Linked DNA regions of Homo sapiens. The protein of the gene in region 2 purifies or fractionates together with the protein of the main gene of each other region. This does not show direct contact. Each region holds a gene or a part of one and is shown on either strand. Other genes may lie near its edges. The genes, in order: TUT7, MKNK2 and CELF1.

Region 1 (3,649 bases), on a different chromosome or scaffold from region 2:
GGGGGTTGGGGGATGATGTGGGGTGGGGTTTGTTGCCATCAAGGATTGACAGCAGTTGTGTCAGGCATTGAACATACCTGACCTTAAATTTTCATAGTAATACACTCCAAATAGTTGTGCCCCCTCCCCATCATGCCAAAGGTCTAAAGTTAAAAACAGGCAGAAGACAGACATAACTTGGAAAATCAATTCAACAGTGCACAAAATCCAATACAAATTTCTTAAAACTAGTTTTCAAAGTTCATTTTAGATGCTGCAATTCTCTTAAGTACAGTTAAATAAAATCTTTTTTTTTTTTTTTGACATGAATAACCTGAAAATAACTTCAGGATACTTCTCTTGATTTTAACTCAAAATATGGTGTCAATTTAGATGAGCGGAAAGGGAAACATACATACACAAGAGTCCCACAGTGCCCCAATAATGCAGGGCATTCAACTTAAAGTTCACACACAGGGTAAAATTTATAATGGAAACAGGTTTATAATGACAATGCATATGAAAGTCCTTGTTACCTTAGGGAAAGCCAGGGAAAACAAAAAACAAAAAAATAGAAAACACAAGAGCTTCATGACATGGTAAATAAATTTTTATTTGATGAAAATTACTATTGGTAGGAGAAATGAATGAGGTACTTTTAGGTAGTTAAATAGAAAAACAAATCTAGAAAATACCTGGTAACTTGTGTTGGAACACATTTTCCATGATACGTTTAATTTCCAGCCTCTGTTCCAAGTTCTCATTGTGTAAGCCAAATTCCTGTACCACTTTGTCAATGGCAATGCCAACTGCATTTATCTGGGAGGGTGTTGGTGGGGGTAACGTAGTGAGCAACTCTTCCTCTTGCTTCTCCTTTTAAGATCAAATGTTGAGATTAAAAATGACTTACACATAGTTTTGACCTTCTACCACTCATGAAGACAACACCCTATAGAGTTTTCTTTTTCTTAGCCCTCCCTTCTCATTTTAGCTGTGTTAGTTTTCATCCTATCAAACATATACATACTTCCTTATGCACATAATGTGGATCAGTGGTAACAGAGGATAGGTGGGCATAAGGAGAAAGTGTAAGGAAAGAATATTAAAAACAGCACTTACAAACATTGTTTGCTTTAATACTAGTATAAGGACATATACCTGGGTCCTATCAATGACTTCATATAACCTGATGCTGCCCTTAAGGAAATTCACAAGATTAACCAGTAAAATACATCTGACCAGTATTATGTATTTTGGCTCAAATATATTCAATAAATAAAGCAGTAAAGTTATCAATATCATAGCCTTAAGGAGAAGAAAGCCACAAAGATGACAAGTAATAACAACTAACAAGTAAGCAGACTTGTTTGGGTTACATTCAATTTACCTTAATGTTTTTCTTGTGCCTCTTTTCCTTGATATGCTTATGGGCAAATGCAATGGATTCAATTAAAACATCACAGAGTCTGCAGGTGTACTTTGCTGTAGGGTAGTTTCGTGGTCGCTATAATTTGAAGAGATTTATTTAGAGAGAGACATAAGTAAAACCAAACATTCAGATAAACAAAATCAGCCAGGAAATGATTTCCCCTTCAATTTCTTTTCTCTAAAGAGACAGGAGTCTCACTATGTTGCCCTGGCTGGAGTGAACTGGCTATTCACAGATACCATTATAGCATACTACAGCCCCAAACTCCTGAGTTCAAGCAATCCTCCTGCCTCAACCTCACAAGTAACTGGGGCTACAGGCATGCCACTGTGCCTGGCTTCTTCTTCACTTTTAAAATTGCTACTGTTATTGTTCCCTTTATCACTACCCTAACAGTCATTTTAAGTATAATAGCAATGACTCCTAATCCTATTAAATCACACTGGACATCACTTTTAACTTGTAGTGCTTAAATACTGATAACCAAAGTAGGATATCTAATTGATCAGAGCATGCATACTCAATTAACAACAAAATTGAGGCTAAAACCAGGATTCTAACCAACAAATATATATATAAGGATGTTACCCTTTTTAGCCTGTCAATGCAGTCTCTCTTCAGTCTCTCCTCAGCCTGCTGTAAGCCTAGCAGCTCCTTCGTTGAAAGTACAGACTCATCGATCACAGGGCCTTCCAAGTCTCCATCCTGCTCATTTTCCTCATTTCTAGTCTTCCGTGGCTTCCTAGGTCTGGACCTCTGCTTCTTGTTTTCTTAAGGTGGGGGAAAAATATTATTGGCAATATTAAATAATGCCACTCCTGAGTAAAAAGCAGACCTTACATATGTATTAAATCATGTGAGAGAATAAATCACATCTGCATGCAGAGCAGAAGGAAAGGTAGCTGTCCTATGGACAAAATGCTTTAATACTGTATTCAGTGAGCACATCACCTGTAGACATTAAGCCATAGAAATCATCTTTTTGGAAAATTTAAAAGAATTCTACTTCAATCATACAATTTGATTTTTATTATCTCTTCCTGGTATACTGCTGAGCATAGCAAAGCAACAGAAAAATTATACTCTGAAGGCAAGTATATCTATAATTCTATTATATTAAAATATTACAATACATATTGTAAATATATCTTACATATTCTATAATATCTGTAAGTACACCTGTTATTCTCATTAAAACCAGCCACATTTGCTTTCATCTTCTATAAGTGAACAATCTCAATAAGGCAAAATGCAAAATGTACCCCTGGACAACTCAGAAATCAACTATATACTCATCTGGAGTGAAAAATCATCATTTAGTTGCAAATTTAGCCATCAATAACACCTAAGCCGGGTCCCTCCGTTAATATGAAGAAGTCCAAGCCAAAATTTTATTTACTAAGGACAACTATCTCTCATTTTACCTTTACCTTCATTTTAGCTTCTTTGAATGGCCTGTACACTGAGCATATTTCAAAGGAAAAAAACAACTGGCCATTGAAACAAAAGTTTTCTCTAAGTACATTTGTTTATAAACTCTGCTATTAGTTCTATAATCCTTATAATGAATAAAAATCATCCTGTTCCTTTTTAAAACTTATAACTTTTCAACTTGTTAAAGTGATTGTGGGATTAAACCATAAAAAATTGTTTTAGATAGCTTTGATAACTTATATCGAGTTTTAAAAAATGAAACTATTAGTAACACATTAGTGCTTGGAAACATAAACCTACTGAAAAGCCCTACATGAAGTAATTCCTCCATCAAGTTTTCAGAGGAACTCATTACTACTAGTATGGCAATTACAATGAACTGGCAGGCTGAAAAGGAAATATAGGACCTCCAATTTTATAAAAAGCTTGCTGAGAGCGCTAAAGGATAAGCAGCAAGCATTGTGCTAAAACTACCTGAGATGACTATCTCAAAATTCTGCAAACACCTTCCACAATATAAGAAAATTAAAAAATTAAAAAAAATTAAAGTGTTGGAAAAGTAGTTTTAAAAAATCAATCAAAATACACTGAACAAATAAAATACTAAAAGGTAAGTTGTCATTTCAACAGAAAATCAGGCTACCTTGCGCTACCTTAATATTTCCTTTTTAATACTCCCCCGACTCCCAATTAAATTATCATAATCTTTTAAGGCCAGTATTTCTGGTCTGAACAATTTTTTTTTTTCAGATAAGCACTTCTTTTACTTAGAGATGTATCCATTCTCATTTAGTTTGCTTATCATTA
Region 2 (3,649 bases):
CGGGGGCTGGGCAAAGCCTACTCTAATCTGCACTGTTCCTTGCACCCTGGTCAGGGTCTTGCTCCCATGGTCCTGGGGCTGGGTCAAGAAATGACCCAGCCCCAGCCTGCCCAGTGCAACAGGCCTGGATTTGAATCCTGGCCCCCAGGGCCCAAGGCGGCTTCCTTAGCCGGGTATCAGGGCCCACCAGGGGCTCCCTCCAGGGGTGTCTGGCACTGAAATGGGAGAGTGCAGGATGTGGTCTGGGCAGGGCCTGGCACACTCGCGCCTGTGGGTGCCTCTCCCGTGAGCCCCCAGGACCAGTACAGCACTGTGTATACTGACTCGGTAACTGGTAGCTGCGGGGTTGGGGGGCTGGAAGCAGATGAGCCTCTGGTGGGTGGCGGGGGCGTAGGTGCACAGAGCTGGCAGGGGAAAGGTGTGCCGGGCAGCTGCGGGACATGGGCGGAGGAATGCAGGTGTCTGGGCTTGGGTAGGGGCAGAAGGCAGGGGTGATGGAAGCAGAGCCCCCACCTTCAGCAGGCCCCAGAGCACCAGGCACTGAATTCTTACCCCGCCAGCCCCAGGCACTGAGCGAAAGGGAGGGGAGCAGCTTAGGGGAAGGAGAGGTGGTTGTGTGCCATCTTAGATGGGGGAAACTGAGGCCCAGGGAGGACTCAGCTGCCCTGAGATGGCCCAGGAGGCCGTGGGAAAGCAGGCACAGCCACCAGGCTGGCAGCCCGCCTAGTGACTCACCTCCTTCCCACTGCCCCGCTGCCTTTGATCCCCGCGACCCGCCCCAGAGGTCAGCCGTCCCCATTCTGTGGACAAGCAGACGGAGGTGCAAGACACGGCTTGGGCCCCACGGTGACTCAATCCTGGCATCAGAGGCAGGGTTCCCAAGAGCCAGCTGCTTGTGTCTGTCCCCTCCCCGCAATGCACCCCTTTCCCAGAGGCCCCCAGGGCTCTGCAGGTGGGAGGAGGTCTTCCCCACGGCCCTGTGGAGGTTGGGGCCCATCTTTCTCTGGGGTGGGGCTGTCCTGGGCACTGCAGGGTGCTGAGCAGCACCCCTGCCCCACCCCACTCCGTGCCAGGAGCTCCCCCAACCGGTCACAACCACAGATGTCCCCAGACATGGCCCAGTGTCTCCTGGGGGACAGAATCACCCCCTGGGTTGGCAAATTCCATGGACCCCCTAAGAGACTCTGCGTCCCCTGATCTTGCCTTGCTGAGGTGCTAGGAGGCCTCACGCCTTCCACATGTGGCCCACACCTGTGATCCCAGCACTTTGGGAGGCCAAGGCAGGAGGATCGCTTGAGGCCAGGGGTTTAAGACCAGCCTGGGCAACGTAGCAAGACTTTATCTCTACAAAACATAAATTTAAAAAAGAGAGAAATCCACACACACACTGAGTGTGGGGCAGCGAGGAGGTGAATCCCAGGAGCTTGGGGGTCCCCTGGTTTATGCTGTCTGCCCCTTCGGGAGTTGATCCTGGTGGGAGTTGATCCTGGTGTGTGAGCGGGGACGGAGTTGATTTTTCCGTAATGCTCAGCGCAGGGCTTGTCAGTGTGGACGCTGCGACACTGGGGCAGGATAGGTCTCCCTGCTGCGTGGGCAGGGATGGGGCCTGAGTGCCTCTCCTCTCCTCTCCCCTGCAGGGGCAGAACCCCTTCGAGCTGGCCTTCTCCCTAGACCAGCCCGACCACGGAGACTCTGACTTTGGCCTGCAGTGCTCAGCCCGCCCTGGTGAGGGGCCCGAGGGGGAGGAGGGCACAGGGCAGCTGCTGTCGCTGCCATGGCAGTGGCCAGCCCCTGCAGGGGGGTGGGGGCCGGCCGGCCAGGGCCATGTCCTGAGCCCCCTGGGCGTGCCTCCTGGAACAGACATGCCCGCCAGCCAGCCCATTGACATCCCGGACGCCAAGAAGAGGGGCAAGAAGAAGAAGCGCGGCCGGGCCACCGACAGCTTCTCGGGCAGGTTTGAAGGTGAGCGGGGATGGCGGGCATTGGGGGAGCCGGGAGCGGGGAAAAGCCAGGGTCCCTCTCACGCCCGCCCCGCTGCCCGGCAGACGTCTACCAGCTGCAGGAAGATGTGCTGGGGGAGGGCGCTCATGCCCGAGTGCAGACCTGCATCAACCTGATCACCAGCCAGGAGTACGCCGTCAAGGTGGGCCCGCGCCGCGCCCTGGGGAACCCAGCGCCTTGGGATCGGTGTTGAGCGGGGGTGGAAACAGTGTGTGGCATTCCGGCTGTCCGTCCTACAGCCGGGAAGACCCGTGTCTAAAAGTGGCCACCGGGCCCTGAGTCCAGTCGGGAATGACAGTGAGGGTGGCCCCTCTGGTACCAGGGTGGGGGCTTCAGACAGAGGCACTGTGCCCATTGGGTCCCCTGGGCCGTCCCTGCCTCTGAGCTGTCCCTGAGGGTACATGACAGTTTGGTTTCAAGGATCAAAATGCAATGTCATATCCCAGGGCCCAGAGGGGCTCTGCGTTTGGGGAACCTCAGTGCAGGCCCGTGAGAGCCCCCTGTGTCACTCTAGCCCTGGGCGGCTGCTGGACCCAGGGTGTGGCCGAAGGGCTGGGAGCAGGAGCCCTGTTGAGGCTCTGGTTGTGACCCTGTGACCTTGTGGGCCGGTTGGATCCCGTGTTCCAAGAAATCTTCCAGGCTTCCCTCGTGACCTGGCATCCGGCTCCCGGGCTGGGTGGGGTCCCAGGAGGGCTGGCTGCCTGGGAAAGAGGGCCAGGTGTGCCCTGGCGAGCAGGGCTCGCCAGGAGCCTGTGGGTCCTGGTGGACGGCCAGGCTAGAGCTTTCCTCTGAGGAGAAGGAGGAAGAAGAGGGGTGGCCAACCTGGGGAGGTTACTGGCTAGGTGCTGGGACCACAGTGGCAGCAGGCAGGGACAGACACAGTACGGACGGTCCCTGCCTCCTGGGAGCCCCCAGGCAGGCCAAGGCAATGGTGCAGGAGCACTAGGCCCCTCCGGAAGCACTTCCACACAGCAGGCGTTCCTCTGAGCACAGCCCTCTCCTGGTGGCCCAGCCTTGCTTCCTGTCTTTGTTTGACAGATAGGGACACTGAGGCTCAGGGGGTTAGGTAGCCTGACTCATGCTGTGTGGCCTCTGGGGGATCCTAACTGGTGTCTCAGAGCCACCTCCCTGGTCATCTTGCCACATTGACCTGGTGTGGTCAGTGTTGGGATCTGCAGAGCCTGGGGGACTTCCTGCTGGAGGTGTTGTTGGCCACTGACGTCCGGGAGTTGGTCTGGCCAGGTGGCAGTGGGAGGAGGAGGTGTCCTGGGCGAGTCAGAGAGGCGAATCGCTGGGCCTGTGGGTCTGAGGAGCGTTGTTTCGTTCTATGGGGACTGGGGTGTGGGCCCTCTGCCCTCGGGGTCATGCTGCGGGAAGCCACCCTGGGGTCACCTGGTGCCGTGAGGCTGCTGGCTGGATGCAGAGCCCCCATGCTGGGACCTCAGAATAGGCCCCTTCCATGCCAGGAGGGGCTGCGCCCCCTCCCTGAAGCAGCATTCTAGCCAGCCACCCAAGGGACAGGACGAGGTTCAGTTTTGTCCAGAACCATCTGCAGTGCCTGCTGGGCACAGCTTTCAGCAGCGGCCTGGGTGGTGGTATTTCAGGACACCCTGGCGTCCAGTTGTTCTCTTGCCCCTCGCTGGGACAG
Region 3 (3,649 bases), on a different chromosome or scaffold from region 2:
GGTTTGTCTGCTTGTCTATGAAAACCTTGGCAGACACGACATTCCCAAAGGGCATAAACATCTGCAGCAGGTCCTGATCACCAAACTCCTGGGGCAGGTGGTAGATGAACAGGTTGGCTCCCTCTGGACCTTCAAAATACCCAGGAATTGGAAAAGTATCAGTGTCAAACATGCTCGTCGCCCTGCACCAGTGATCTTTCATTTCCACCTATGTTAAAACTGTCACAATCCCTAAAAACAGAGATTCATCTGGGGAACTAAACAGATTCTCTAAATACAAAGCAAGGAACCAAAGGCAAACATTAAAACAGATTCCTTCCCTCACATTCAGCCAAGCTCCATCTCATTGAGGATGTGAGAAATTCTACCCGCAGGAGGAGGAGTGTTGGGATAATAAAGCAGGCCGACTTGTGTGTGGAGCAGGAAAACAGAGACTGTAGGCTCAGAGAGGAACACAGAAGAGGAGGTGAAAAGGGGTTATAAACAAAACAGGTTTCCAAATAATGCCTAGAAACCACAGGGACAGCAAACAGATTGGTAGTTGCCAGATGCAGGGAATGACTACAAAGGGGCACGAGGGAATTTCTAGGGGTGATGGAAATGTTCCTAATCTGTGGTGATGGTTGCAGGACTAGGACTGTTTGTCAATACTCATATAGCTGTATGCCAAAATCAGTGAGTTTCATCATATGTAAATGGGAAAATAAGAAATTAGTTTTAAAAATGCACCCATGATTAACACTGAGCTTAAAAACAGAATATACATTCTTCATCTGACTATTTACACTCAATGATTTTCTTTTTTTTTCTTTCTTTTTTTTTGAGATAGAGGCTCACTCTGTTGCCCAGGTTGGAGTGCAGTGGCGTGAACTCAGGTCACTGCAACCTCCGCCTCCCGGGTTCAAGCAATTCTCCTGCCTCAGCCTCCCGAGTAGCTGGGATTACAGGCAGGCGCCACCATGCCTGGCGTATTTTTAGTAGCGATGGGGTTTCACCATGTTGGTCAGGCTGGTCTCGAACTCCTGATCTCATGATCTGCCTGCCTTGGCCTCTCAAAGTGCTGGGATTACAGGCGCGAGCCACTGCGCCCAGCCTACTCAATGATTTTCTAACCAAAAAGCTTTATTACAATTGCAGTCCAGCCATTCTCCAGCCACCCTGGCCTCCCTGTTTTTTTCAAACACATCAGGGAACATTGCTGCCTCAGGGCCTCTGTACTTGCTTTTCCTATGCCCCTGTTACTCTTCTTTCTCTAGATTCAGGCATGACTTGCTTCCTACTTCCTTCAGTTCTCTGCTTAAATGTCAATCTAGAGAGACATTCTCTGAGCATTCTGCATAAAATGCAGTGCCTCTGACACTCCCTATCTCTCTTCCCGGCTTGTCATTCTCCAGAGGATCATCTGAAACACCTCATGCTTTCATTTATTTATTGTCTGTCTCCACAGTCTCCACTAAAATATTGGTTCACGCTACATTCTCCTACTACCACATCCCTAGGGGATATAAGTGATTCACAGCAGGTGAGGAGAGATGAACCAGGACTTTCTGCTGTGACAAGAGGACACTCATCTTTTTCCTACATTAGTGCTTATACCAGCTCCTGGTTATAAAAACCCAGTCAAATCTGAGCACAGAGGTGTCAGCAGGACCTTCTATTCATGTAAGTCACCTTCAGGCCTCTTTCTGGCTAAAGAGTCTCTCCTATTTTTCTCCTAAATTGAATACCATTTGTGTCAAACGACATACTTCCCACTCCATCAACTCATGGGCCAAACTCTGTCCCATCACCCCTCAGTTTGTCTTCAATCAGGACAAACATCAATCAGAAAGTGAGGAAAATGCCAAATGATATAGCTAAAAGGGACACTGAAACAGAAGACATCCAGACAGAAGATCCTCTGATAGATTTGTAATCTGTAGAGAAGACCTCCTAACAGAAACATTCTTGTCAAATGTGTCAGACCCGATAAGGTCAGTGTCTGTTGCTTCATCTAAAAACTGCAGCCCCATCCCAAGAGGGCACACAGAGGTTCTGATTTGAGCCACATCCAGAAAACATTTAAAAAGCAGATCACACTTCACAGGGTTTCTCAGTCTACACTTGACACTGTCAAAGAAAAACAATGGTCTGACGACCTAACTGGTTCCCTCAGCCTTTGCTCTGCCTTTCCGTTCTGGTATAGGAGGAAAACCGCCCCCCATACCTGACCCCGATCTCCCTTTGCACTCACCTTCCTTCTGGCTTCCAGCAGCACCAATACTCTGCTGTGTCAGAAGATTCTGGTTGTACAGAGTGGGGAGCGCAGCAGCAGCATATTGCTGGATACCCGAGTAGGCCTGAGTGAGGGCCTCCATGGTGCTCCCGGTGCCATTGGAAAGGCCACTGCTGCCCAGGCCACCATTTAAAGCAGCCATTCCTTGGTTGGAGGAAGAGAAGGATTAATATACTAGAAAGACTAAACTGATGCCAAAGACAAGTCTACTTGGGACATCTAGAAGAGGGAAAACTCCAAAGTTCTCCCCTTTATCTCCCTCTTAGTTTCTCCCTGAGAAGAAACTATCTGACTGGCTAGATTTCAGGACATTCACCAGGCCTTGCTAATGGGGACATTAAGAAATGCCATACGCGGGTGTTGTGCTCCCCATTACCTTCATCCAATCTGTGGAATGAGAGCCTCCATTTTCTATCTGGCTATTCTGCCACTTTCTCATAATGAGCTAGAATGTCATAAAAGAAGAGGCCCAAGACTGCAAACTCAAAGGGGTACATGTGATTTCTGACAAGATGTGGGTGAACCCTACCATTAAAACAGCAACTAACAGGTACTAAGTACATTCTATGTGTCATCTACTGTACTATGCAATGTGCTCAGCAGCACTTTACCTATGTTCTAATTTTTTTTTTTTTTTTTGGAGACAGAGTCTCACTCTGTCACCTAGGTTGGAGTTCAGTGGTACAATCATAGCTCACTGCAGCCTCAAGCTCCCAGGCTCAAGCAATCCTCCCGGCCTCAGCCTCCCAAGTAGCTGGGACTACAGGCATGCACCACTACACCCAGATAATTTTTGTAGAGATGGAGTTCTCACTATGTTGCTCAGGCTGGTCTGGAACTTGTGACCTAGGGTGATCCCCTGCTTTGGCCTCCCAAACTGCTGGGACTATAGGTATGAGCCACTGTACCTGGCCTCATTTAATTTTTAACAATCCTTCAAAGTATTCTATTATTCCCACTTCAAAGATGAGAAAATGTCCTTAGAAAGGTGGTCCGAAGTTATAGCTAGCTAACGGACACAGGTGGGATTTAACTCAGGTCTGATTTAAAAATCCCATGCTTTTTTGAGACGGACTCTCGCTCTGTCACCCAGGCTGGAGTGCAGTGGCGCAATCTTGGCTCACTGCAACTTCTGCCTCCCCGGTTCATGCCATTCTCCTGCCTCAGCCTCCCAAGTAGCTAGGACTACAGGCGCCCGCCACCAGGCCCAGCTAATTTTTTTGTATTTTTAGGGGAGACGGGGTTTCACCGTGTTAGCCAGAATGGTCTCGATCTCCTGACCTCGTGATTCGCCCACCTTGACCTCCCAAAGTGCTGGGATTAGAGGTGTGAGCCACCACACCTGGCCCTCATGATTATTTTTAACTTCACTGG

What was found.
Region 1: the proteins of MKNK2 (region 2) and TUT7 purify together in Homo sapiens (affinity purification with mass spectrometry; one large-scale study listed by BioGRID and IntAct). This does not show direct contact.
Region 3: the proteins of MKNK2 (region 2) and CELF1 purify together in Homo sapiens (affinity purification with mass spectrometry; one large-scale study listed by BioGRID and IntAct). This does not show direct contact.

What each region holds. Positions count from the first base shown.
Region 1 is NC_000009.12:86,344,303-86,347,951, forward strand, and holds part of TUT7 (terminal uridylyltransferase 7), read right to left. Parts: intron 2,179-3,649; coding exon 1,997-2,178; intron 1,484-1,996; coding exon 1,367-1,483; intron 853-1,366; coding exon 675-852; intron 1-674. UniProt on the Homo sapiens protein: Uridylyltransferase that mediates the terminal uridylation of mRNAs with short (less than 25 nucleotides) poly(A) tails, hence facilitating global mRNA decay. Essential for both oocyte maturation and fertility.
Region 2 is NC_000019.10:2,044,680-2,048,328, reverse strand, and holds part of MKNK2 (MAP kinase-interacting serine/threonine-protein kinase 2), read left to right. Parts: intron 1-1,637; coding exon 1,638-1,725; intron 1,726-1,860; coding exon 1,861-1,962; intron 1,963-2,045; coding exon 2,046-2,143; intron 2,144-3,649. UniProt on the Homo sapiens protein: Serine/threonine-protein kinase that phosphorylates SFPQ/PSF, HNRNPA1 and EIF4E. May play a role in the response to environmental stress and cytokines.
Region 3 is NC_000011.10:47,473,103-47,476,751, forward strand, and holds part of CELF1 (CUGBP Elav-like family member 1), read right to left. Parts: intron 2,420-3,649; coding exon 2,234-2,419; intron 130-2,233; coding exon 1-129. UniProt on the Homo sapiens protein: RNA-binding protein implicated in the regulation of several post-transcriptional events. Involved in pre-mRNA alternative splicing, mRNA translation and stability.